Regions from separate parts of the Homo sapiens genome. Here region 1 is linked to region 2. Evidence: fine-mapped expression QTL. A gene starts in region 2. The other region holds a variant in brackets. All regions are shown on one strand. Distances are from middle to middle. Region 1 has its middle 54 kb from the start of RNU6-1. Region 2 holds the start of CALML4 (calmodulin like 4).

What was found.
Region 1: its variant is fine-mapped to the expression of CALML4 in whole blood (TOPMed, PIP above 0.99).

Annotation. Positions count from the first base shown.
Region 1 is chr15:67,893,090-67,895,589 of GRCh38, forward strand. No RefSeq gene overlaps it. Among named protein-coding and RNA genes, the nearest start is that of RNU6-1, 54 kb to the left of the region's middle. The variant T/C (reference allele first, on the strand shown) is at 1,106.
Region 2 is chr15:68,203,981-68,207,004 of GRCh38, forward strand. CALML4 (calmodulin like 4) reads right to left here and starts at 1,352. Exons shown (of 5, transcript NM_033429.3): 1 at 1,265-1,352; 2 at 1,141-1,171. The coding sequence starts at 1,267. CLN6 (CLN6 transmembrane ER protein) reads right to left here. Exons shown (of 7, transcript NM_017882.3): 7 at 3,012-3,024. RefSeq lists an enhancer at 2,051-2,345.

The sequences.
Region 1 (2,500 bases), 310 kb before region 2:
AGGTAATTTTCATTTTTCCTATATAAATATCTAGTTGACCTAGTACCATGTACTGAAAAGACTTTCCTTTCCCTACTGCAGTACAGTGCCACCTTTGTGGTATATCATATGACAACAAGTTCATGTGTCTGATTCTGGGCTTTCAATCTGTTCTGTGGTCTATTTGTTTGTTCTTGTTCCAATACTACACTGTTTTAATTACCATGGCTTCATGAGTCTTGTTAATTGTTTGTAACTCCTCCCATTTTGTTCGTCTTCTTTAATAATGTCTTGATTATTTTAGGCTCTCTGAATTTTCAGATACATTTTAGAATCAGTTTGAAAATCTTGGCTTGGCGTGGAGGCTCATGCCTGTAATCCCAGCACGTTGGGAGGGTGAGGCGGGAAGATTGCTTGAACCCAGGAGATTGAGACCAGCCTGGGCAACATAGTGACACCCCATCTCTACAAAAAATATAACAATTAGCCAGGTGTGGTGGCACATGCCTGTGGTCCCAGCTACTCAGGAGGCTGAGGTGGGAGGATTACATGAGCCTGAAGGTCGAGGTTGCAATGAGCTGTGATTGGGCCACTGCACTCCAGCCTGGGTGACAGGGCAAGACCCTGTCTCAAAAAAGAAAAAAGAAAAAAAGAAAATCTCCACAATAACAGCCTATTAGGATTGGCACTGGGGTTGCATTGGCCCTGTAAATTGATTGGGGGAGAACTGACCTCTTTATGTTATTCAGTAGCCAATCCATGAATATCCAGTCCATAAACATCCTACATCTTTTTGTGTAGAAATGTAAGTGATGTTTGTAAATTGATTTTATACCTAGCGTCCTTGCTAAATTCACTTATTAATTCTAATAATGACAGTTTTGTTTCTTTCTATCCAGGCCTCATATCTCTCACATATATATATATATATATATATATATATATATATATATATATATATATATTTTTTTTTTTTTTTTTTTTTTTTTTTTTTGCCTTATTATACTAGCTATGACCTCTGGTACAATGTCTTAAGTAGCTTTATTCATGGTCGCAAAGGGAACACTTTCAACATTTCACTGGTAAGATTGATATTTGGAAGCCGAGGATAGCCTGTAGTCTCAGC[T/C]ACTTGCAGCCACTTGGGAGGGTGAGATGGGAGAATTGCTTGAGCCCAGGAAGCAAAGGTTGCAGTGAGCCAAGATTGCCCTACTGTGCTCCAGCCTGGGGGACAGAGCGAGACAAAACAAAAAATTTATTGGCTGACATTTTTCTTACTTCCTGAGGTATATGCTTAGGTAATTGATTTTCAGCCTTTCTTGTTTTGGGATATATGTGTTTATAAGTCTATACATTTCTCTCTAAGCACAGGAAGTTCTGATATGTCATACTTTCATTATCATTCATCTCAAAATATTTTCTGATTTCCACCATAACTTGTTCTTTAACCATCCTGGTTCAATTAAGAAGCATTCTTAGGCCATGCGTAGTGGCTCATGCCTATAATCCCAGCACTTTGGGAGGCCAAGAATCACTTGAAGCCAGGAGTTTGAGACCAATCTGGTCAACATGGCGAAACCCTGTCTCCACCAAAAATACAAAAATTAGCTGGATGTGGTGGTGCAGCCTGTAATCCTAGCTACTCAGGAGGCTGAGGAATGAGGACTGTTTGAACCTGGAAGGCGGAGGTTGCAGTGAGCCGGGATTGCACCACTGCACTCCAGCCTGGGCCACAGAGCGAGACTCTGTCTCAAAAAAAAAAAAAAAGAAGAAGAAGCATTCTTAGTTTCCAGATACATGAGAGTATTCCAATTTCCTTTTTGTTATTAGTTTCTAGCTTAATTGAAGTGTAGTCAAATTTACTCCTTATGATTTCAATGTTTTAGAGGTTGTTAAGACTTATTTTATTGCGTAGCATGTAGTAAATTTTAATAAATGTTCTTTGTATTCAATTACATGATTCCATCTTGTTTATTGGGTGCAGTGTTCTACAGTTGTCAATAAGGTCAAGTTTGCTAATCATATGCAAATTTTCTATATCCTTCTAACTTTTGACAGCTTGTTCTATCACTTAAGGAGAGAAGTGTTTTAAAGTAAGCCTGTGTGAATATGTCTTTTCTCCTTTTTGTTTCTATTTTTGCTTTATGTACTTTGAGGCTAAATATTGAGTATAAATAAAGTTAGATGTACTTTATCTTTCTAGAATCAAATTTTTTTTCATTATGGAATGTTCCTCTTTATTTAGTAATGCTTTTTTGCTTTGAAGACAATTTTGTCAGTTTTAACTTTCAAACTTTCTGTATTCTTATATCTTACAGTTGTTTCTTGTAAACATACAGTAGGGCTTTGTTGTTTTTTATATAGCCTGACAATCTTTGTCATTTAATTGGAGCATTTAGTCCATTTACATTTAATATAATGTAAATGGTCATTGATTTTTCATCACTTTTTGTTAGTTATTATTTTTATTTAATTCTAACATTAATTATTTGCTTGCAACTTGTTCCTCTGTTTTATGTTCTTC
Region 2 (3,024 bases):
AGGCTGAAGGCTGGACTCCAGCCCTCAGTCCACCATTCATTATCACCGTTAGACCTGGACAAGAGGGCACTGCCCCGGGCCCTGTGTTTTAAAAGTCCCTGCTCCTGCCCTGGCCCTCCTCTTGGGATAAAGAGTTCCAGGGTTCTACGTGGAGGTGCCCACCTGGAGCTCACAATTCCTGCCCCTCTGGACCAAGCTCAGAATACCCAGAACTCTGGAACTCCTGCCCAGGTAACCCTAACCCCACTTGGCTGGGCTCTCAGGACCCTACCCTGGATCACAAGGGCCCAAGGTGCCTGTAATTTTATCTCCAGTGGTCAGCGAAGGACTCACTGAGAAGGCGATGTTTCAGCAAAGACCTGGAGGAATGGGATGCCTCGGGGGACTCTCAGGCCCATTGACGTCCACTGTTGGGACAGGTTTCAGGGTCACAACCTCAAGCAGCAGCTGGCTGTGCCTCCTGGGCCTCTCCTGCCAGGTGCAGGGGGGCTGCAGCCATGAGGCTCCCCTGGCTCAGGTCTGGGCCCCCAAGTTCTTTGTAACGCAACTCTTTGCTCTTGGCCTTCTGGAAATAGAACCCTGCACGGTGTGAAACTGAAGCCTGGTCGAGGGCTGGCAGAGTAGGGGACCCAGGGAATAAAGTGCTCACGCCCAAACCAGGCTTGATGCCAGGGCAAAGGGGGCTCAGTGGACCCTCCATTTTACAGATAGGGAGACTGAGGCGCAGAGAGTAGACGCATCCTGCCAGAGAGTGCAGACCTGGCCTCTGTTCTGTCTCAATTACAAAGCCCCTCCTCTTTCCCTGCTGCCAGCCATACCTTTAATGGTCTCTCTCTCCATCCCCAGTCCCCTCAGTCCCCAAATCCAACTGGTCAGGTTCTGGAGGGAAACCTAGTAAGTTCTGTCTTAGCGCCCTGGCTTGTAAGTCACACTGACAAGTATAAAGCCACATGTCTATTTTGGAGGCTTACCCCCAACCCCCACCCCGCCAACAGCAGCCTCCCCGCAGCTCTTGGCCCTGGGTGGGCCCAGCTCTCCCACAGCCACCTTCCTTCCCACCAAGAAAACATGAGCAGAGCAAATTGCCTAATGAGACCCATATTTTGCTGAGTTGCTAATCAAAGAACAAACCCAACCTACCATTAATTTGGTCTTGGGAAAGAAACTTGGCCTGCAGCAGAGAAAGGAAAACAGTCAGGGGAGGGCTCCACCTGAGGTTCACGCCCCCAGCCCTGGCCAGGCCGACACAGACCCTCACACTCACCATTCTGGGGCCTCGGCTGCTACCCGTGGGCTTGCTGCTCCCAGAACCGCGTTCAGTTCCCTTTCCTCCAGCCTCAAGTCTAAAGTCTGCCAAGCTGGGTGGAGGCCCGGGTAATAAATGCTCGGCTGCCATGGAGACTGGGCCCGACGCCACCAGGGTCAGATTCCAGCTTCCTGAGCACAGCTCATGACCCGCCACCTGGGCAGGTTGGATTTTTGAGGAAATGGGGCTGCAGAAGGCTCTCCCTGGGCTCAGAGTCTCTGCCTCCAGAAGCCGAAGCAAAGGGACAAATGCCAGTGTTTCTTCCCGGGAGCCCTGGACTCCAGGAAGGGGTCTTCTCTCTCTCTCCTGGGACTCGGCGGGGATGCCATCAGGCCCCTACTAGAGTTGGACACTTTACACCCCGGGTCGTATTGAAGGCTCCTCACACACCATCTTGTAGGAGGAAGGGAACCCTTCCAAGACGGCCTAACTCAGAGATGGGCACCGGGGCTCGCAGGCTTGGGGCTCGGTATTGCAGGGATACAAGCTTCGGTGCTCTCAGGCTGGGATTCAGTCCTCCCCGTCTGCTGACTTGCTGAGTGACTGGCGAATCATTCTACCTCAGTCTGTGCCTCAGTTTCCTCACCAGCTGAATTACAGGGCAGCTGGCAAAATCAAGTGGCCAGCGCACAGCCGGTTCCCATCCTGTGCCAGTTCAGTTCCCACCTTCTGAGGACTTTAAGGGTGGTGGAGGGGCCTGAGCCGGGTCTCCAGCCCCACCACAGGCTCCTCGGGGGCTTGGAGTGAGGCCTCTTAGTGCCGGTTACCCTGGCCAGGAAGGCTCCCCTTTTCTTCCTTCCCTTCCTCTCTCCACCCTCAGCCCCACCCCTTCCGCAGAAGCTGCTGACGCTCCCAAGTCTTCAGGAGTTCGTGCTGCTCCCCTCCCCCACATAGGAGGAAATGGGGGCAGGGTGTGAGGCCTCCCCAGCTTCTTCCCCTTGAGATCCCATTTCCCTGTTTGGGGCGTGAGGCTTTTGTCCACAGCTGAGTCTATGAGGCTCTACAAGTAGGTGTGGCTGCACAGGTGTGCCCTACACAAAGGCCCCCAGCCCAGGTGCGAGTGGTTGCTGGCCAGGGGCTGCACTGCCAATAGGAAGGGGGGCATTGTGCCACTTTGCACACAGGCGCATAGACGGGAGGCGCTGCCTGTGCCCCACTCTCCCCTCCCCGCTCCTTTCCTGACCGCCTCTGTGTGGAAAGTGTGCTTTTCTCCCAAATCACATCCCCAGAATCGCTTTACACCTGTTTCTAGACCCAGAGAATTTTAGCTGGGGACTCCGACTCCTCCCTGTCAGAGTTTGAGGCTCCCCCTCCCAAACCCCATGGCAGGGATAAGAGGAGGGAAGGCTGCCTCTGTGCAGAGGATGGAGAGAAGGACATCAAGGAAAGTCACTTGGGACTCTGGAAGCCTGAAGGCGGCCAGGCCAACATGCTCCCTCTGAATCCCCTTGCCTGTGGGAAGGGGCTCCAGAAGAGATGAGGTGCCTCCTTGGAGTTAGGCCAGTGTGTGCTGGGGTGCCCCGGCCAACTCCCTCCTTATGTGTGTAGGTGTCTCCGGGGGTGACGCACAGATGGAAAACACCAGCGTGGGGCAATGGCTGCGTGAGGGTTCACGATACAGCAACTCACCATGCTGTAGGGCGCACCGTGTGTGCTACACCTCAGCACGAAAGGGAGAAAAGACAAAAAACACCTCTAACACCACTTGGGGCTGTGAC